4 linked regions of the Homo sapiens genome follow. The protein of the gene in region 4 interacts with the protein of the main gene of each other region in a biochemical or structural test. Each region holds a gene or a part of one and is shown on either strand. Other genes may lie near its edges.

Region 1 (7,044 bases), on a different chromosome or scaffold from region 4:
GATTACAGGCACGTGCCACCACGCCCAGCTAATTTTTGTATTTTTAGTAGAGACAGGGTTTCACCATGTTGGCCAGGATGATCTCGGTCTCCTGAACTCGTGATCCACCCACCTTGGCCTCCCAAAGTGCTGGGATTACAGACGTGAGCCACCGTGCCCGACCAGAGTCTTAAGGTAGTAGCAGTATTCTTTTTTTGGCTGGGGGCAGGTGGGGGCAATGTATTTGGGCTTGTGCCCTGAATCGTGGACTCCACAACTTCTTGATTTTGAGAAAGCCAGTCAAAACTGCACTGAAATACAGATGCTAAATTTAGGATTTATGTTAGTATATCTTCAAGGATATTATAAGAAAAAATGTCTGCAATTTGTTGATGACTGGGTATTTATGTATATTGCCTTTAATCCCTTCAACAACCTTGCACAGTGGGTATGATTCTCTCCATTTTATTCATTGTTATTATTTTTATTTACTTTTTGTTTTTGAAATGGAATCTTGCTCTGTTGCCCAGGCTGGAGTGCAATGGCATGATCTTGGCTCACTGCAACCTCTGCCTCCTGGGTTCAAGTGATTCTCCTGCCTCAGCCTCCAGAGTAGCTGGGATTACAGGCACCTGCCACCATGCCTGGCTAATTTTTGTATTTTTAGTAGAAATAGAGGTTTCACCATGTTGGCCAGGCTGGTCTCAAGCTCCTGACCTCAGGTGATCCTCCCACCTTGGCTTCCCAAAGTGCTGGGATTACAGGCATGAGCCACCACTCCTGGCCTACTTATTTTTTTGAGACAGGTTCTTACTCTGTCACCCAGGTTGGAGTGCAGTGGTGATCACAGCTCAGCTCACTGCAACCTCCACCTCCCTGGCTCAGGTGATCCTCCCACCTCGGCCTCCTGAGTAGCTGGGACCACAAGTGCATGCCACACCCAGCTAATTTTTGTATTTTTTAGCAGAGATGGGGTTTTTCCATGTTGCCTACGCTGGCCTCAAACTCCGGAGGTCAAGGTATTTGCCCACCTGGGCCTCTCAAAGTGCAGGGATTATGGGCATGAGCCATTGTGTCTAGCCTGTTTATTATTTTTTAAATTAATTTATTTTCTTTTTAGAGACAGGGTCTCCATCACCCAGGCTAGAGTGCAGTAGTGTGATCATGGCTCACTGCAGTCTTGACCTCCTGGGGTCAAGAGATTCTCCTGCTAAGGCAGCTGCCTCCCGAGCAGCTGGGACCACAGCCATGCGCCACCATACCTGACCAATTCTTTTATTTTTTTGTAGAGATGGGGGTCTCACTTTTTTGCCCAGGCAGGTTGTGAACTCCTGGGCTCAAGCAGTCCTCTCACCTTGGCTTCACAAAGTGTTGGTATTACAGACATGAGCCACCGCACCTGGCAGGTTAACTCTGTACAGATGAGGATGCTGAGGCACATAAAGGTTAAATCTTTTGCGTAAGACAGTACCATTGATAGTGGAGTTGGGATTCAAACCCCCATTTGTCCATCTCTGCTATACCGTGCTATAGTCAGAATGATGAAATATATGAAAGGATATATGTATTTTTAATAAACTGTGTTTATTGAAGGGTATCTTTTTATAAATTACAAAAGTTAAAATGTTTATTTTTCTGTTTTAAAACAATTAGAAGTTTTTGGAATTGTGTAGAAAAAGTGTGATCTCTTCCCAAAGATAAGTAGAGATGTTAAGGGTATACACTCATGGAGCCACCTATATACAGCCTTCATTAATGTTACTGATTTAAAAGTGTTGTTCTTTTAAGCACTGTATGCTTCAAACAAATGAGTTGCCCAGAGTTAAGTCTTAAATGGAAAAGGTTTAGCTGCAGGGCATTTCCCAGTTATGATTCATGGAGATTCAAGTTTTCTTTTTGTAAGCATTATAGCGTATGGGAGAAGTTGATCTAATCGCAATTTAAAAAAGCAAAATATGACTGCTATATATATGATAATCAGATGCTATCTAGTCCAAGTATGGAATAGTTATAAGTGTGGATTAAATGGGAAGCATTTGTTTAGTAATTATGATGGGATATAATGGAGAAAATATAATATTCCATGGAAGATTTTTCCTGTTTTTAAAAAATTCTTCATTAGAAGTAGAATATGCTGCTTTTTGAAGCTTATCAGTCATGAGGTCTGATCGGTGCCTGTTGTAGGTACTCAAATATCTCTTGGATGGAGAGCGTAGTTGTTCTTGCCAATTAAGAGGAAATTAAGGGTTAAAGCAAAGCAGCAGCTGCTATCAGAATCCCTTAACTTTGGAATGCAGTAAGACATATTGCTTGTCAGAAACAGCTTTCCAAACCAACAGATGGAATTACAGGTTTTTAAAGCACTTCCATTGCTCCTAGATGCCTGCTAAGTTAGGACAGTTGCAGATAAAGTGCTTACAGCCAAGTGGAGCAGATCCCTTACACTGTCGAAGAAAGTAATTCAGTGGTAGCAAGTTATTTTTAGCTCTGGCCCCGCAGTGCCATTGTACTTGCCTGCAAGACCATCAGAAAATCATTTGGCCTTCTCTATTTTGCTCATTCCTTAACAGATGCTTTGATACTTCGAATTGTTAGATAAATTTAAAATGTACATTTTTATGACTTTTGTGTTTTTTGTTCAGTTTAAAAGAACCATGTAGATTATAGGCTTTCAATAAATACTTGTTAGTTGGACATAAATATGTAAAATTAAGGTTTTAAAGCACAGATATTTAAGATACAGTCTTAGAGCAAGAGAGGCTGTCCTCCTTTTACTGATAATAAGACAAATTAAGTCATTTGCCCAAGATCACATAGTTACTGGTGACAGATCTCAGCATAATCAGTATATATACTGTAATGTACAGTGGTAAATTAAAAAAAAATTAAAAGCCATTTTAGAATGTAGAACTCGGAAAATCTTAAAATTCTTAAATTTGACCTTTGCTTTTAGGAGAAAATGTGCACCTTCTACCATTCATTCCCAGCACTTTGCTTGAATGTGCATGGGTGTAAAAATTATACTTCAACCATAATTTATAGCAGTATTCTAAATTAAAAATTATAAAATGCTAAAAATAGCTTTTGAGCTAATTTTCATGATATTGAACTTTCAGAATATAAAAGAACAAACTTATCCTATTGATCTGCATTTTAGGTATATCCAGAGTCTTCAGGAGCTTCTTGATTTTAAGGACAAAAGTGCTGAGGATGCTAAAGCTATTTATGAGTAAGTTCACTATTTTGACCCTATTCTTAAACCTATTATTAGGTCACTTGGGGGAAATTGGTTAACTTTTAGGTTTCTACTACTTTAGAACATGTGATATATGTGACTGTAGCAGCCCATACAGGCAGGACAAATAACAATCAGCAAATTTGACTAGGCATAAGAAATGCTTCGTGTTCCTCTTTAACAAAAGACAAAGTTCAGGTGTGATGATCAGTGGAAATGTAGGTGTGGCCTCAGTGCCAGTTGGACTGTTCACCTGGAGGGTGCATGCTCCTTCTAATGGACAACCACCTTCAGCCCCAGCTGATCTTTGCCATATGAAAATACTGCCCATATCATCTGATTGTTTTCTGATTTTAAAGGAAAGCTACAAGTCTAGATTTGTAATGTAAAATCTCTCACTTTTGAAAGATTGGTAACTAATTAAAACATTTTTTAAAACACAGAAGGCCTAGAAGAACATGGTTGCAGGTCTCTAGTTTATGCTGTATGGCCTGCAAGATGATGTAAGTAATATGACAATGTTAATAACCCATATACCAGAATTGGTAAACCAAAGTATTTGCCTTATGCAGCTACCTGCTTATTGCAGTGAAGGGTACTGAGAGTGTAATGACCATCTCTTGTCCTCAGTTAGTTACACATGTTTTTTGGACTGTCTTTAAAGTGAACAGTAACACTTCATTTTTTTAAACATGATTTTAATCTGAAAATAACTTCAGCAAGAGTTTACTCCTTGCTTAGGTATTGAGCAGACTTTACATGAATGATGTTTTTTAATCTTTAAAACAATTCATTGAAATAATGCTGTTTGTGCACAAAGAGGGTAAGTAGTTTAAGGTTACATAGTTAGCAAATGGTAGAATCCAAGCAGTCTTACTTTAAAAGTAAACATTATGTTATAGAGCCTTCTGAAAACAGTCATTCAGAGCTGTGGAAAATAAGTAGTCAAGCAGAATAATACAGATTTGTGTTTCTTTGAAGCAGAAAGAAAATAATAAAGGAGTGACTAGAATGATGAGTTGTTTGTTGTTTTTGAAGAGTTTTGTTGTTTGTATTTTAGTTTAACAGTCTTGTTTTGAAGCGCATTACTAACTAGGAATTCCAAAAATGTTTTAAGCAGTGGAAACATCATTGGAATAAGTTAATAGTACTCAGGATGATGACTTTGAATAGGAAAGCACTCATTTGGAAGTGTAAATTCAGATGGGTTATGTTAGAAAATTGGTTTCGTTACTGCATAATTAAGACTTCTTGGGCCGGGCACGGTGGCTCACGCCTGTAATCCCAGCACTTTGGGAGGCCGAGGCGGGCGGATCGTCTGAGGTCGGGAGTTCGAGACCAGCCTGACCAACATGGAGAAACCCTGTCTCTACTAAAAATACAAAATTAGCCAGGCATCATGGTACATGCCTATAATCCCGGCTACTCAGGAAGGCTGAGGCAGTAGAATCACTTGAACTCGGGAGGTGGAGGTTGCAGTGAGCCGAGATTGCGCCATTGCTCTCCAGCCTGGGCAACAAGAGCAAAATTCCATCTCAAAAAAAAAAAAGACTTATTTTCTCTTTTATTTAGTTATTTAACCATGCAGTGTCTTCTAAGTGACAGAGATGGGAAGACTAGATGATTTGAAGATTTGTCTTTTAATATAATTGTTTACTTTTCCTCTCCCATTTTATAAACTCATAGGATGAGTGAAATGAGAATTCTTTTCTGTTTTTCTGTCCTAAGTGTTTCCTTCTCTCTTTGAACCCTAGGGAATAGGTCCAAAACAGGCAGGCTTTATTGGCTCATTCATCTTGATTCCTTGCAGAGCAGAGCAGGTGTTCTCTAGAGGCAAGTGCTTTGTCTCCTCCTATGCAGAATGTCTCTGGAATACCATCCTCTTAGCCAGTGCTCAGATGACCTTAGTTGATAACAGTTAAAACCATTAACATTTTTTGGATTACGTTTTGTGGCAGCCTTACTCTTAGGAAGCCAAGAAAAGAATTAAATCTTGAAAGTTTTATTTTGGAGGTCTGTATACTTTCATAGATTTGGTATATTTTATGATCTGAAATACATTTAAATAAGTATAGGAAAACATGAACCGATTTTCCTTTTATTAAATTGGGGATTTTTTGTCTAGCATAGTTGGTTAAGCTTATATTTTTGTATTAAGTTTACTTGTCAAAATATTTGGCTGTTTTGACAGATGGGTTTGTTTAGCTTTACAGATACTGTGATACGGATCAGAAACCGACACAATGATGTCATTCCCACAATGGCCCAGGGTGTGATTGAATACAAGGAGAGCTTTGGGGTGGATCCTGTCACCAGCCAGAATGTTCAGTACTTTTTGGATCGATTCTACATGAGTCGCATTTCAATTAGAATGTTACTCAATCAGCACTGTAAGTGTCCCTCATGAGTCAAGAGAAGAAGCTAAATGAGATGTGTTGGCATATTTTAAATTTATTTAGGAAAGTTCCATTTAGGTAGGAAATTTAGTTTTACCTTTTGGCTAATTAAGAAAAATAAATAGACTGCCATCAAGAAAGGTGTTTTTATTGAATGTAAAATACTATGTTTATCCTAAAGGAAAATATTTGTTCTGTTTGGTACAATTTAAACAGTATTCAGATTTGGAAAAGAGCATTAGGTGGTTTAGCTTATTTTGTTGGTTTTTTTCCTTTTTGGATAGCTTTATTGTTTGGTGGAAAAGGCAAAGGAAGTCCATCTCATCGAAAACACATTGGAAGCATAAATCCAAACTGCAATGTACTTGAAGTTATTAAAGGTAAATACTGACATTTCTCCTTGCAAAAAAAGATACAAAAATCAAAATTATTGTTATTTCTTACTATTAAAACATCTATTTGTATCATGAGATAAAATGGTAGGCACAAATGCATGGGTTTGAAAATAACCTTATAGTATTATTTGTGCATTATGTATAGGATGACTATTTTATTGATAGAATTATTTGTTAGGCAAAGTTTGGTGATACTATAGAGGATATCTTTTTTGTTTTGTTTTGTTTTGTTTGAGACAGAGTCTCACTCTGTTGCCCAGGCTGGAGTGCAGTGGTGTGATCTCAGCTCACTGCAGCCTCTGCCTCCTGAGTTCAAGCGATTGTCTTGCCTCAGCCTCCCCAGTAGCCGGGATTACAGATGCTCAACACTACGCCTGGCTAATTTTTGTATCTTTAGTGCAGGCAGGGTTTTACCATGTTGGCCAGGCTGGTCTGGAACTCCTGCCTGCCTGCCTGCCTGCCTCGGCCTCCCAAAGAGCTGGGATTACAGGCGTGAGCCACCGAGCCCAGCTGAGGGTATCTTTCACTTAAAAAAGAATTGAAGTCCCTACTGCCCTGTTTCTAATTCTTACACTATGAGCAGTAATTCATAACAATTTGGTTTGAATCATTTCACACTTTTTTCTATTTATACCACTTGTACACATACACAATTGATGTTGGTCTTACATTGTTGTTTTTAGAAAATGGGGTGCTCTATGTTTTTTTCTACAAGTTTACAGACATCTTGCTGTTCAGTACATCTGGATATGCTCCAAGGTTTTGAATGGCTCTATGGAATGTATCAGTATGTGTTAATTAATTCTCCTGTTCATGCACACTTAGGTTGTTTTAATTTTTTTCTGTTACCACCAATACCAGCAGTACTGCTGTGAACATCCTTAAATACACGCTCACTTTTGCTAGTATTTTAGAGGTGAGATTCCTAGAATTAAAAACATTTAAATGCATATAAAATTTTGGTATCTCCAAAAAGGTTTCAAACAATGGATAAGAGTGTTTCCTAACCAACTCTTAAGTTTTGTTACATAGATAGCAA
Region 2 (2,669 bases), on a different chromosome or scaffold from region 4:
CCAGGGCACAGGGTGGGTGCGGTGTGGTGGCTGAGCAGCCACTGACACGCTGTCCCCACAGGTCCTCTGCCGTCACCCGTCACCAATGGAACCAGCCCTGCCCAGGTAAGAGGGTGGGGTGCCCATGAGACACAGGGTGCCTCTGGGGGTACCCAGGCCCGACAGAGGCCCCCTTCTCCCTGGAGATCCGTCCTCGAGGTGTGCTAGTGACACCCGATTTTAGCCCTGTCACCTCCCTTTAATGCCCCTGTGGGTCTCATCCTGGGTCGTGCCACACACAAGCCACGTGGGGCCCCTGGGGTCGGGGCCACTGCCTTCTGTCCTCTCCTGGGCACCACCTGGTAAGGAGTTGCCCTCCAGTCTCTGCCTCCTCAGGGAGCTGGCGGTGGCCTCACCCCAGGCGTTGCTCACGCCGGCCATTCCTGCACCTGAACCCCCTCTGCACCATGAGCCGGCCAGGCCACCTGCCTGTCACTGCCAGGCGCCCGGTGCCTGCCCCGCCGCATCTGGAGTCCACCAGAGGCCCGAGGCCCCCTGCCGAGTGGAGGAGCACACACTGGGGGGGGGTGTGCCTCTGTGCACATGTGTGCGTGTGCAGGTGTTGTGTGTGTCTGTGAAACCACAATCTGCCCTTGGTTTCCCAGCTCAATGGTGGCTCTGCGTGCTCGTCCCGAAGTGACCTGCCTGGTTCCGACAAGGACACTGAGGTATGGATGTTCTCCACTCCTGAGCTCACACGTGGGGTTGCTAGAGGCCTTGGGGTAGGCGTCTGTGGAGATGTCAGCCCGGGCAGTGGGGTCTCTGTTCAGGAAGTCCTCGTGAGCCCCAGCCCCAGCAGGCAGCCTCTGTTGGTTGCTCCCTAGGAGGGGCCACCGTCTGGGGTGTGGGACTAGGGCTCACTCCAGACACCCCACCCACCGTGCTCACCCCAGGATGGCAGTGCCTGGAAGCAAGATCCCTTCCAGGAGAGCGGCCTCCACCTGAGCCCCACGGCGGCCGAGGCCAAGGAGAAGGCTCGAGCCATGCGAGTCAACAAGCGCGCGCCACAGATGGACTGGAACAGGAAGCGTGAAATCTTCAGCAACTTCTGAGCCCCTTCCTGCCTGTCTCGGGACCCTGGGACCCCTCCCGCACGGACCTTGGGCCTCAGCCTGCCCCGAGCTCCCCCAGCCTCAGTGGACTGGAGGGTGGTCCTGCCATTGCCCAGAAATCAGCCCCAGCCCCGGTGAGCCCCCATCCTGCCCCTGCCCACCAGGTACTGGGGGCCTGTGGCAGCAAGATAGGGGGAGAGAGACCCAGAGATGTGAGAGAGAGTCAGAGACAGAGACAGAGAGAGAGAGAGAGAGACACAGAGAGAGACAGAGAGAGAGCGAGCGAGCGCGCGGCAGCCGCGGGGCGAGGGCCTTTGCTGCTCTGCCGGGGCCTGCTGACTGAAAGGAATTTGTGTTTTTGCTTTTTTTCCAAAAAGATCTCCAGCTCCACACATGTTTCCACTTAATACCAGAGACCCCCCCCCTTCCCCTCCCCCTTCCCCTCCCCCTTGGGACGCGCTCTAAATAATTGCAATAAAACAAACCTTTCTCTGCAAACCATTTCCTCCCCGCCCCCTCCCCTCAGCAGCGGCCGTCCTGAGTGGGAGTCCCTGGGACTTCCCAGTGGCCAAGTTGGGGCGCCCAGCCTCTTCGTGGGGACCTTGGGTAAGGCCAGGGAGGCCTGATGTGGCCGTAGGAGCTGCCCCTGCCCACCTGCCCTGGTGTGGGGGTCCCTAGGCCACACCCTGCTCCCCACCCAGCTACCCTGTGCGCCTGTGCCCTGCTGGGGGCCTGGGCTCTCCGAGGGGCCTGAGGATGGAGGCCCCACGTCCCCGAGGAGGGCGGCCTCTGGACAGGCCCCTCATTCCGCGCGGCAGCTCCCAGGCCTGGGGAACGTAGGTGTGTGAGAGCGGCACCCGGGAAGGACGCCTGGCCTCTGGCTCAGCCCTGCTTGGCGGGCTCCCCCGTGGACACCCTGTTGACTTTGCACTTCCCTCCCGGGCCCCGCACCCCCGAACCGACCACCGATCGACCGGCACCGCTGTTGCCTCGTAAGCCATAGCGCATGCGCGCTCTCAGGATAAACAGGCCCTGCCTGGGACCCACACGCCTCTGTCTTTTCTGAGCCTCCTCCCCGTGGGGTGAGAGGGGTGGAGGGATGAGGCTGTTTCAGGGAGCCCCCTCCCCGAGTCTCAGCAGCTGGAAACGGTCTCGTTCCTGAGCCCGTGCCCTGCATCCATCTGCTCCCAGCCCTGCTCCATCTCCCCCGCTGACCCCCATGGGACCCCCTGCTGTGTGGCACATCCTGGGCCCATGCCCATCTCTCTTATTTGGCAGACTCAGCCTCCCACCTTCACCTTCCCTGTGAAGCCATCCGGCCCCACACAACACCCACACGGGCCACCCTTTGCCCAATTCACCCTGCGACCTCTAGCAGTCACAGGTCAAGCTTTGTACCCTGTGGCGCCCTGCCTGGGTCCCCAGTGTCCCTTTCAAGGCCGGGTAGCTCTGTAAACAGGGGTGGGACCCTGGCAGAGGCTGGGCTTTGAGGGCATGAAAGTTCAGGAGCTGGCGGTGTCCGGGCTGGGAAGCTGGGGGGCCGGCGGTGGATAGCATGAGGGGCCAGGGTCCCCAGCC
Region 3 (5,325 bases), on a different chromosome or scaffold from region 4:
GTGGGCACAGGTATTACCAATTGGAAGACAATAAAAACAACAGCTCCTGGCCAGGCGCAGTGGCTCACGCCTGTAATGGCAGCACTCTGAGAGGCTGAGGCGGGCAGATTGCTTGCGTCCAGGAGTTCAAGACCAGCCTGGGCAACATAGCAAAACCCCGTTTCTATTAAAAATACAAAAAATTAGCCAGGTGTGGTGGCATGCACCTGTAATCCCAGCTACTCGGGAGGCTGAGGTGGGAGAATCACCTGAGCCTGGGAGGTCAAGGCTGCAGTGAGGTGAGATTGTGCCACCGCACTCTAGCCTGGGCGATAGAGCAAGACCCTGTCTCAAAAACAAACAAAAAACAGTCCCTGGCACTCTGGGCCAGGCCTGGCAGGGCAGTTGGCAGGGCTGGTCTTTCTCTGGCACTTCATCTCACCCTCCCTCCCTTCCTCTTCTTGCAGATTGAAACCCACAAGCTGACCTTCCGCGAGAACGCCAAAGCCAAGACAGACCACGGGGCGGAGATCGTGTACAAGTCGCCAGTGGTGTCTGGGGACACGTCTCCACGGCATCTCAGCAATGTCTCCTCCACCGGCAGCATCGACATGGTAGACTCGCCCCAGCTCGCCACGCTAGCTGACGAGGTGTCTGCCTCCCTGGCCAAGCAGGGTTTGTGATCAGGCCCCTGGGGCGGTCAATAATTGTGGAGAGGAGAGAATGAGAGAGTGTGGAAAAAAAAAGAATAATGACCCGGCCCCCGCCCTCTGCCCCCAGCTGCTCCTCGCAGTTCGGTTAATTGGTTAATCACTTAACCTGCTTTTGTCACTCGGCTTTGGCTCGGGACTTCAAAATCAGTGATGGGAGTAAGAGCAAATTTCATCTTTCCAAATTGATGGGTGGGCTAGTAATAAAATATTTAAAAAAAAACATTCAAAAACATGGCCACATCCAACATTTCCTCAGGCAATTCCTTTTGATTCTTTTTTCTTCCCCCTCCATGTAGAAGAGGGAGAAGGAGAGGCTCTGAAAGCTGCTTCTGGGGGATTTCAAGGGACTGGGGGTGCCAACCACCTCTGGCCCTGTTGTGGGGGTGTCACAGAGGCAGTGGCAGCAACAAAGGATTTGAAACTTGGTGTGTTCGTGGAGCCACAGGCAGACGATGTCAACCTTGTGTGAGTGTGACGGGGGTTGGGGTGGGGCGGGAGGCCACGGGGGAGGCCGAGGCAGGGGCTGGGCAGAGGGGAGAGGAAGCACAAGAAGTGGGAGTGGGAGAGGAAGCCACGTGCTGGAGAGTAGACATCCCCCTCCTTGCCGCTGGGAGAGCCAAGGCCTATGCCACCTGCAGCGTCTGAGCGGCCGCCTGTCCTTGGTGGCCGGGGGTGGGGGCCTGCTGTGGGTCAGTGTGCCACCCTCTGCAGGGCAGCCTGTGGGAGAAGGGACAGCGGGTAAAAAGAGAAGGCAAGCTGGCAGGAGGGTGGCACTTCGTGGATGACCTCCTTAGAAAAGACTGACCTTGATGTCTTGAGAGCGCTGGCCTCTTCCTCCCTCCCTGCAGGGTAGGGGGCCTGAGTTGAGGGGCTTCCCTCTGCTCCACAGAAACCCTGTTTTATTGAGTTCTGAAGGTTGGAACTGCTGCCATGATTTTGGCCACTTTGCAGACCTGGGACTTTAGGGCTAACCAGTTCTCTTTGTAAGGACTTGTGCCTCTTGGGAGACGTCCACCCGTTTCCAAGCCTGGGCCACTGGCATCTCTGGAGTGTGTGGGGGTCTGGGAGGCAGGTCCCGAGCCCCCTGTCCTTCCCACGGCCACTGCAGTCACCCCGTCTGCGCCGCTGTGCTGTTGTCTGCCGTGAGAGCCCAATCACTGCCTATACCCCTCATCACACGTCACAATGTCCCGAATTCCCAGCCTCACCACCCCTTCTCAGTAATGACCCTGGTTGGTTGCAGGAGGTACCTACTCCATACTGAGGGTGAAATTAAGGGAAGGCAAAGTCCAGGCACAAGAGTGGGACCCCAGCCTCTCACTCTCAGTTCCACTCATCCAACTGGGACCCTCACCACGAATCTCATGATCTGATTCGGTTCCCTGTCTCCTCCTCCCGTCACAGATGTGAGCCAGGGCACTGCTCAGCTGTGACCCTAGGTGTTTCTGCCTTGTTGACATGGAGAGAGCCCTTTCCCCTGAGAAGGCCTGGCCCCTTCCTGTGCTGAGCCCACAGCAGCAGGCTGGGTGTCTTGGTTGTCAGTGGTGGCACCAGGATGGAAGGGCAAGGCACCCAGGGCAGGCCCACAGTCCCGCTGTCCCCCACTTGCACCCTAGCTTGTAGCTGCCAACCTCCCAGACAGCCCAGCCCGCTGCTCAGCTCCACATGCATAGTATCAGCCCTCCACACCCGACAAAGGGGAACACACCCCCTTGGAAATGGTTCTTTTCCCCCAGTCCCAGCTGGAAGCCATGCTGTCTGTTCTGCTGGAGCAGCTGAACATATACATAGATGTTGCCCTGCCCTCCCCATCTGCACCCTGTTGAGTTGTAGTTGGATTTGTCTGTTTATGCTTGGATTCACCAGAGTGACTATGATAGTGAAAAGAAAAAAAAAAAAAAAAAAGGACGCATGTATCTTGAAATGCTTGTAAAGAGGTTTCTAACCCACCCTCACGAGGTGTCTCTCACCCCCACACTGGGACTCGTGTGGCCTGTGTGGTGCCACCCTGCTGGGGCCTCCCAAGTTTTGAAAGGCTTTCCTCAGCACCTGGGACCCAACAGAGACCAGCTTCTAGCAGCTAAGGAGGCCGTTCAGCTGTGACGAAGGCCTGAAGCACAGGATTAGGACTGAAGCGATGATGTCCCCTTCCCTACTTCCCCTTGGGGCTCCCTGTGTCAGGGCACAGACTAGGTCTTGTGGCTGGTCTGGCTTGCGGCGCGAGGATGGTTCTCTCTGGTCATAGCCCGAAGTCTCATGGCAGTCCCAAAGGAGGCTTACAACTCCTGCATCACAAGAAAAAGGAAGCCACTGCCAGCTGGGGGGATCTGCAGCTCCCAGAAGCTCCGTGAGCCTCAGCCACCCCTCAGACTGGGTTCCTCTCCAAGCTCGCCCTCTGGAGGGGCAGCGCAGCCTCCCACCAAGGGCCCTGCGACCACAGCAGGGATTGGGATGAATTGCCTGTCCTGGATCTGCTCTAGAGGCCCAAGCTGCCTGCCTGAGGAAGGATGACTTGACAAGTCAGGAGACACTGTTCCCAAAGCCTTGACCAGAGCACCTCAGCCCGCTGACCTTGCACAAACTCCATCTGCTGCCATGAGAAAAGGGAAGCCGCCTTTGCAAAACATTGCTGCCTAAAGAAACTCAGCAGCCTCAGGCCCAATTCTGCCACTTCTGGTTTGGGTACAGTTAAAGGCAACCCTGAGGGACTTGGCAGTAGAAATCCAGGGCCTCCCCTGGGGCTGGCAGCTTCGTGTGCAGCTAGAGCTTTACCTGAAAGGAAGTCTCTGGGCCCAGAACTCTCCACCAAGAGCCTCCCTGCCGTTCGCTGAGTCCCAGCAATTCTCCTAAGTTGAAGGGATCTGAGAAGGAGAAGGAAATGTGGGGTAGATTTGGTGGTGGTTAGAGATATGCCCCCCTCATTACTGCCAACAGTTTCGGCTGCATTTCTTCACGCACCTCGGTTCCTCTTCCTGAAGTTCTTGTGCCCTGCTCTTCAGCACCATGGGCCTTCTTATACGGAAGGCTCTGGGATCTCCCCCTTGTGGGGCAGGCTCTTGGGGCCAGCCTAAGATCATGGTTTAGGGTGATCAGTGCTGGCAGATAAATTGAAAAGGCACGCTGGCTTGTGATCTTAAATGAGGACAATCCCCCCAGGGCTGGGCACTCCTCCCCTCCCCTCACTTCTCCCACCTGCAGAGCCAGTGTCCTTGGGTGGGCTAGATAGGATATACTGTATGCCGGCTCCTTCAAGCTGCTGACTCACTTTATCAATAGTTCCATTTAAATTGACTTCAGTGGTGAGACTGTATCCTGTTTGCTATTGCTTGTTGTGCTATGGGGGGAGGGGGGAGGAATGTGTAAGATAGTTAACATGGGCAAAGGGAGATCTTGGGGTGCAGCACTTAAACTGCCTCGTAACCCTTTTCATGATTTCAACCACATTTGCTAGAGGGAGGGAGCAGCCACGGAGTTAGAGGCCCTTGGGGTTTCTCTTTTCCACTGACAGGCTTTCCCAGGCAGCTGGCTAGTTCATTCCCTCCCCAGCCAGGTGCAGGCGTAGGAATATGGACATCTGGTTGCTTTGGCCTGCTGCCCTCTTTCAGGGGTCCTAAGCCCACAATCATGCCTCCCTAAGACCTTGGCATCCTTCCCTCTAAGCCGTTGGCACCTCTGTGCCACCTCTCACACTGGCTCCAGACACACAGCCTGTGCTTTTGGAGCTGAGATCACTCGCTTCACCCTCCTCATCTTTGTTCTCCAAGTAAAGCCACGAGGTCGGGGCGAGGGCAGAGGTGATCACCTGCGTGTCCCATCTACAGACCTGCAGCTTCATAAAACTTCTGATTTCTCTTCAGCTTTGAAAAGGGTTACCCTGGGCACTGGCCTAGAGCCTCACCTCCTAATAGACTTAGCCCCATGAGTTTGCCATGTTGAGCAGGACTATTTCTGGCACTTGCAAGTCCCATGATTTCTTCGGTAATTCTGAGGGTGGGGGGAGGGACATGAAATCATCTTAGCTTAGCTTTCTGTCTGTGAATGTCTATATAGTGTATTGTGTGTTTTAACAAATGATTTACACTGACTGTTGCTGTAAAAGTGAATTTGGAAATAAAGTTATTACTCTGATTAAATAAGGTCTCCATTCATGGATTCCAAGGACAAGAAAGTCATATAGAATGTCTATTTTTTAAGTTCTTTCCCACGCACCCTTAGATAATTTAGCTCAGAACAGGAAATGATAGTATTAATAAAAGCTGGACATCAGGATTAACAGCTCTCTCTGGGGCCCTGAAGGTGAGAGTTCTCAGACTTGCTCATTTGCAGTTGCTTCTTTGTGATGCTGGCAAACCATCCTAGTCCCATTCAAAGGGCAATACAAAGCCTTGTGGCTGACCTCACGATGCAGCACTCAGTTTGCAAGACCGGCACCAGTGTATGCAAACCTGAGAAGGTTGGGGATGAGGATATGGGATCTTTCATCCCTGGAAATTTAGTCCAGAGGCCTGGGGCTGGAGCAGAACACCAAGCCAATCAGCTTAATGAATGGCTTAGATTCCTGCTAGGTTTGCAGAGCTGCCTTCTTTCCTTTGGTACCTTATTATAGATTGAGGAGTATTTCTGCTAAACCAAG
Region 4 (7,044 bases):
CCACTCAGGAGGCTGAGGGAGGAGAATCACTTGAACCAGGGAGGAGGAGGCTGCAGTGAGCTGAGATCGCGCCACTGCACTCCAGCCTGGGTGACAATCAGAGACTCCATCTTAATAAATATAAATAAATGAATAAAGAAATAAATAAATAAAGCAATTAAAAGACACTTGTGGCTGGATGTGGTAGCTCACGCCTGTAATCCCAGCATTTTGGGAGGCTGAGCTGGGAGGGGAACACTTGAGCCCAGGAGTTCTAACCAGCTTGGCTTGACCAACATGGTGAGACTCTATTTTTTAAAGAAATGTATATATATATATACATTTATGATTCTGATAAAATATTATTCTTTTAAAAGTTAAAGTACGAAGAGTTGTAAAAACAGATAAAACACCCATGATACTAACAATAAACACAGCAGTTTCTATTTTGCCTCTTAACTCTCCTACTTTATGTCTATAGTGTTTCTGTGTATATATATATGTATATATATATATGTATATATATAAAATATATATGTATATGTATATATGTATATGTATAAATATATATGTATATATATAAAATATATATGTGTATATAAAATATATATGTATATATAAAATATATATGTGTATATATATATTTTTTTTGTTTGTTTGTTTGTTTGTTTTTTGAGACAGAGTTTTCACTCTTGTTGCCCAGGCTGGAGTGCAATGGCATGATCTTGGTTCACCACAACCTCCACCTCCAGGGGTCAAGCGATTCTCCTGCCTCAGCCTCCTGAGTAGCTGGGATTACAGGTGCCCAACACTACACCCAGCTAATTTTTGTGTTTTTTGTAGAGATGGGGTTTTGTCATGTTGACCAGGCTGGTCTTGAACTCCTGGGCTCAGGTGATCTGCCTGCCTCGACCTCCCAAAGTGCTGGGATTACAGGCGTGAGCCACTGCACCCGGCCTATAGTTAGTACATATGTTTTTACATTTGTGATTATAGCAATTAAACAGTTTTGTATTTGGCTTTTCTCATATAATTATGTTCTAAATATTTTTCATATTTTCACAGTCTTCATAATACTTAATTTTAGTGATAGCAAAATATTCTATCAAGTAATATAATAAATTGCTTAAACATTATTGCTATTGCAATTTTAGTTTATCCTCAGTGTTTTTTAAAAAGTTAATTGCAGGCTGGGCATGGTGGCTCACACTTGTAATCCCAACACTTTGGGAAGCCAAAGTGGGAGGATCGCCTAAGGCCAGGAGTTTAAGACCAGTCTGGGCAATATAGCAAGACCCTGTCTCTACAAAACAATTTAAAAATAATTAGCCAGTCATGGTGGTGCACGCCTGTAGTCCCAGCTACTTGGGAGGGCTGAGGTGGGAGGATCGCTTGAGCCTAGGAGGTTAAGGCTGCAGTGAGCTGTCATCGTGCCAATGCACTCCAATCTGGGGAACAAAACAAGACCCTTTAACAACAACAACAACAAAAATAATAATAATAATAATTGTAGCATCACTAACTAAAATTCAGTACTGTGATTTTACTTCTTTGTCCTTTTGCTATAGGCTAATTTCACTAATTGGTTGAATATAAAAGAATCCTCAGGAGTTTTGAAGAGCATGAAAGTGAAATAGTAAATCAAAATAAATTTCAAGCACCAGTGACCATAAGTCTTAACAACACTTCAGTGCTTCTTAGAAAATTGCATGCTCATGGCCAGGCGCAGTGGCTCAAGCCTGTAATACCAGCACTATGGGAGGCCAAGGTGGGCGGATCATGAGGTCAGGAGATCGAGACCATCCTGGCTAACACGATGAAACCCGGTCTCTACTAAAAATACAAAAAATTAGCCAGGCATGGTGGCAGGTGCCTGTAGTCCCAGCTACTCGGGAGGCTGAGGCAGGAGAATGGCGTGAACCCAGGAGGCAGAGCTTGCAGTGAGCTGAGATCGCGCCACTGTACTCCAGCCAGGGGCAACAGAGCGAGACTCTGTCTCAAAAAAAAAAAAAAAGAAAGAAAAGAAAATTGCATGTTTATAAACTCTGGATTCAAGGTGCCTGGATCCCGCCTTTACTCCATAACAACACTGTGCCCTGGGGAAATTTGCTTCACATCTCTATGCGTTTGTTTTTCCATCTGTATAATGGGATTGAAAATAGTACCTTTCTTATAAAACTTTTCTGAGGACTAATTAATTAATTTTTTATTCTTCATTTACTTATTTATTTTCTTTTGTAGAGATGGGGTTTTGCTATGTTGGCTAGGCTGGTCCCAAAATCCTGGCCTCAAGTGACCTGCCTGCCTTAGCCTCCCAAAGTTTAAAGTGCTGGGATTACAGGTGTGAGCCACCTCACCCTGCCTGTTCTGAGGATTAAAAACTATACACATCAAACACTTTAAAAAGTGCCTTGATTTTTGAAATGCTGTATAAATACCATGCCTGTTAATATTAGAATAGCTTTATACTTCTTTCTGTATCTTATAGGGATTTTACAAGCAAGCAAGACAAGTGGTGAGTTTTAGAACTTTAAAAACAAACTTGAGCTAATTTCTTAGCCAGAAGCAATTTCTTTTATAATCAAAGTTGTGCAGTAGTATATATGGGCCGGATTCAGTGGCTCATGCCTGTAATCCCAACACTTTGGGAGGCGGGAGGATCACTTGAGCCCAGGAGTTTGATACCAGCCTGCGCAACTTAGTGAGACCTCATCTCTACAAAAAAAAAAAAAAATTAGTAGTGTGATGGTGCGAGCCTGTGGTCTCAGCTACTCCAGAGGCTGAGGTGAGAGGATTGCTTGAGCCCAGCAGTTCAAGACTGCAGTGAGCCATGATTAGGCCACTGCATTCCATCCTGGGTGACAGAGGAAGATCCTGTCTCAATAACAATAATAATAGTGAATATGTATTTGCTTAGCAATGGATTAGATTGTAAACTATGAGATTAGTATTTTCCCTTGTAAGAATAACTAGTAATTCACCTTAGAAATGTGTGAACTAAATTTCTGTCATCATAATCATAATAATAAGGGTCAAAGTAAAATAGTCACTATCTATTGGGCACCAAACATGTGCCAGGCAAAGTACTTGAACATTGTAAAACATGGTAGCATTTTCACAGCTTGGGAGGAAATATTATTACCTGAATCTTACAAATGAGGAGACAGGCTGGGCACAGTGACTTATACCTGTGATCCCAACACTTTAAGAGGCAAAAGGATCTTTTTCTTTAAAAAAAAAAAAAAGTTATTTTTTTCGTAGAGACAAAGTTTCGCTATTTTGCCCAGGCTGGTCTCAAACTCCTGGGCTAAAGCAGTCCTCCTGCCTTGGCCTCCCAAAGTGCTATTTAGATATAAACCATCTCGCCTGGCCAGGGTAATTGTTTTTGTTTGTTTTTGGGTTTTGAGGGTTTGTTGTTGTTGTGTTGTTGTTGTGGTTGGAGACAGTCTTGCTCTGTCACCCAGGCTGGAGTGCAGCGGGGCTATCTCAGCTCACTGCAACCTCCGCTTCCCAGGTTCAAGCGATTCTCCCAAGCAGCTGAGATTATAGGCGTGTACCACCAGGCCTGGCTAATTTTGGTATTTTTAGTAGAGATGGGGTTTCATCATGTTGGCAGGCTGGTCCAGGAGGATCTTTTAACACCAAGACCAGCCTGGGCAACAGAGTGAAACCCCCCTATCTCTAAAAAGAAAAAAATTCTAACCCCACTGGAAGCAGGAGGAAAAAGAAAAGAAAAAAATAATGTGAAAAAAAAATGCGGAGACAGACTCAGCAAGATGAAATGACCAGCCATGTAATGCATACTCTAGGAAAGAGACTGAACAGCATTGACCAATTCGAATTGTGTTGAGTTTGAAAGATAGACAGGTTGTGAGACCGAGTTCTCCTTTCATGAGCTCCCATCCCACCAGATTTCCCACCAAATCCCCAATAAACATCAAAGGGAGTCAAACACATTTGTTTTTTCTTTCCTTTTGCACATTGCAGGTACGAAGGTGGATCAAGAGCCCAATGGTCAGTGTGGACAAGCATCAGAGTCCCAGCCTGAAGTACACCGGCTCCTCCATGGTGCACATCCCTCCAGGGGAGCCAGACTTCGAGTCTTCCTTGTGTCAAACATGCCTGGGTGAACATGCTTTCCAAAGAGGGGTTCTCCCTCAGGAGAACGAGTCATGTTCATGGGAAACTCAATCTGGGTGTGAAGTAAGTTCATGTTCGCTCTGGATCTATTCTCCTGGAAAAATTCTGGGCCTTTGTTTTTCTTGTATTTCTGCCAGAGTATACCCAAAAAATAATTTTTTAATGCATATTTATAAAGCTTCTGAGGAAGACCTAGAATTGTGGTCTTTGTTAGCTCATTATGTTATTTTTTTAAAGTAGGCTTTATATTTTAGAGCAGCTTTAAGTTCACAGCAACATTGAGCAGAAGGTACAGAGATTACCCATATACGCTTGTCCCCATGCACGTATAACCTACTTTGCCATCAACATTCCCTAGCAGAGTTTTATGTTAGAGTTCACTCTTGGTGTTATACATTCTATGGGTTTGGACTAATGTATAATAACATGCATCCACCATTACAGTATCATACAGTTAAGTTTCACTGCCCTAAAAATCCTCTGCCCTCCACTATTCATCCCCTCCTTACCCTGACCCCTAGCAACCACTGATCTTTTTACTGTCTCCATAGATTTGCCTTTTCCAGAATGTCATCTAGCTGAATCATGCAGTATGTTGTATTAATGTTTTACGTGGGTCCAAGACTGATACAGCAATGTGTTGGTAAACTGGCAATTCCTCAGAAGTGGTTTGATCACACAGGAGATCAAGTCTTAGATGATACAACGATTGTAATAGTCATCTACATGTTCGTAGCTTCCATTGAAATATTTAGTTCAACACGATTTGATCCATTTACAGAGCACTATGTATACTTTTCATTATTTTTCTCAAGCTCATATATACTCACATTTTTACTAAGACTTATTTTCCCTGCTACTCCAAGAGTTGTTTTTTAAAAATTTTGTTAATCCAAGAAAACCAGATAACTGATTCATCTTGCAGTTTCTAAGATTTCAAAAATTTAAGATTATATTTTTAACTTATAACTTAATTAGGCCCATATTTATTTTGATTTTTAAAACCATTATATAAAATGCTTATATTATTTTTACCATCATACTGACATAAAAATACAATATTTAGAAGACAGAACATGTTATTACAAAGTACAGTTAATTGTAAGTGATCTTCCAAGTCAGTGCATCATAGAATGATAAACGTTAATAACCGCTCACCTTTTTTATTTTTAGCAAGGTAACCATTTTCCAGAGATAAAATAATCATTTAGCTGCTAAAAGACTGAAGACATTAAATCTGAGTTCCTTTTCACTCTGAGTTATCACGCAATGTCGCTGAATCTGTTTCATAATTTGTCTACTTTCTTTCTTTCTTTTTTTTTTTTTTTTGAGTTTCACTCTTGTTGCCCAGACTGGAGTGCAATGGCACGATCTCGGCTCACTGCAACCTCCGCTTCCTGAGTTCAAGTAATTCTTCTGCCTCAGTCTCCCGAGTAGCTGGGATTACAGGCACCCAACACCACGCCTGGCTAATTTTTGTATTTTTAATAGAAACAGGGTTTCTCTATGTTGGTCAGGCTGGTGTCAAACTCCCAACCTCAGGTAATCCACCTGCGTCGGCTTTCCAAATTGCTGGGATTACAGGCATGAGCCACTACGCCGGCCCTTTTTTTGGGGGGGGTGGGGGTCGGGGACAGGGAGACAGGGGGACAGAGTCTTGCTCTGTAACCCTGACTTGAGTGCAGTAGTGCAATCATAACTCACTGTTACCTCAAACTCCTAGGTTCAAGTGATCCTCCCACCTCAACCCTCCCAAGTAAATAAGACCACAGGCATACGCCAACAAACCTGGCTAATTAAAAAAAAAAAATTTTTTTTGTAGAAACAGGGTGTTGTCATACTGACCAGGCTGGTCTTGAACTCCTGGCTTCAAGTGATCCTCCCAAAATGCTGGGATTATAGGTATGAGGCACAATGCCCAGCCTACTTGTCTACTTTCTACGGTTATTGGAAAAATCAAATGAGATTGATATGAAATGTTTCATAATCTATAGAATGCCATGCAAATATAAATCATTATTGCTCATGTTTGCTGATTTACATATTAGCTAAGCCTGTGACTCTGTAACACTATATTAGACTTCCATAACTGGGTTAGCACTTTGCTGATCCATGAACATTTGTCATGGTGCATTTGCTTTTTAGCCAGATGTTGGTTCAACTCTAGGTTTGTCATGAAAAACAATAAAGACGCTAAATGCAAGAGCATCTATTTATCGCTCCTGATGCAAGGGATAGAGTCAACTTTTTATCTAAACGGCCAGATAGTAAATATTTTAGCCTTTGCCTAAAATACAGTCTCTAACTTCTATTTAGCTCTGCCCTTCTAGGGAAAGCAGCCATAGATAATATGTAAATGAATGGACACAGCTCTCCCAGGTTGGAGTGCAGTGACGAGATCTCAGCTCACTGCAACCTCCACCTCCCAGGTTCAAGCAATTCTCCTGCCTCAGCCTCCTGAGTAGCCGGGATTACAGGCATCTGACACCACACCCGGGTAATTTTTTTTTTTTTTTTTAGTAGAGATGGGGTTTCACCATGTTGGCCAGGCTGGTCTTGAACTCCGGACCTCAAGTGATCTGCCTGCCTCAGCCTCCCAAAATGCTGGTATTACAGGCCTGAGCCACTGCGCCCAGCCTGAGTTTGCCAATTTCTTAGACTCTAAAGAACTATTTATGACTTAGAAGCAGAGAGAGGGTTCTACATATCCTATACAGAGCACACATGCCTAGTGCTAAATGTTTACTTGAGGGCCTACTCTATGTCCCATTTGATAGGAGCTGGGTTTAAATCAATGCAACAGTGAAATTCCACACAAAAGGAAACAATAAACAAAGCTGAAAGGAATTTAAAGCAACATTGTGATTTACCCTTTTCCTTTATCTTAGATAGCAGGTAAATCATTCTCCAATTTGCAATCGATTA

What was found.
Region 1: of the proteins of SGK1 (region 4) and PDK1, one has a biochemical effect on the other in vitro, tested with the Homo sapiens proteins (one study listed by BioGRID).
Region 2: the proteins of SGK1 (region 4) and NHERF2 form a complex in vitro, tested with the Homo sapiens proteins (2 studies listed by BioGRID, with this or other methods).
Region 3: of the proteins of SGK1 (region 4) and MAPT, one has a biochemical effect on the other in vitro, tested with the Homo sapiens proteins (3 studies listed by BioGRID and IntAct).

What each region holds. Positions count from the first base shown.
Region 1 is NC_000002.12:172,559,084-172,566,127, forward strand, and holds part of PDK1 ([Pyruvate dehydrogenase (acetyl-transferring)] kinase isozyme 1, mitochondrial isoform 2 precursor), read left to right. Parts: intron 1-3,136; coding exon 3,137-3,208; intron 3,209-3,657; coding exon of another isoform or gene 3,658-3,717; intron 3,718-5,027; exon of another isoform or gene 5,028-5,047; intron 5,048-5,419; coding exon 5,420-5,604; intron 5,605-5,894; coding exon 5,895-5,990; intron 5,991-7,044. UniProt on the Homo sapiens protein: Kinase that plays a key role in regulation of glucose and fatty acid metabolism and homeostasis via phosphorylation of the pyruvate dehydrogenase subunits PDHA1 and PDHA2.
Region 2 is NC_000016.10:2,036,894-2,039,562, forward strand, and holds the end of NHERF2 (Na(+)/H(+) exchange regulatory cofactor NHE-RF2), read left to right. Parts: intron 1-61; coding exon 62-105; intron 106-644; coding exon 645-707; intron 708-863; coding exon of another isoform or gene 864-893; exon of another isoform or gene 894-932; coding exon 933-1,091; 3' UTR 1,092-2,133; downstream 2,134-2,669.
Region 3 is NC_000017.11:46,023,510-46,028,834, forward strand, and holds the end of MAPT (microtubule-associated protein tau), read left to right. Parts: intron 1-446; coding exon 447-662; 3' UTR 663-1,607; coding exon of another isoform or gene 1,608-1,679; 3' UTR 1,680-4,825; downstream 4,826-5,325. UniProt on the Homo sapiens protein: Promotes microtubule assembly and stability, and might be involved in the establishment and maintenance of neuronal polarity.
Region 4 is NC_000006.12:134,259,071-134,266,114, reverse strand, and holds part of SGK1 (serine/threonine-protein kinase Sgk1), read left to right. Parts: intron 1-3,966; coding exon 3,967-4,182; intron 4,183-7,044. UniProt on the Homo sapiens protein: Serine/threonine-protein kinase which is involved in the regulation of a wide variety of ion channels, membrane transporters, cellular enzymes, transcription factors, neuronal excitability, cell growth, proliferation, survival, migration and apoptosis.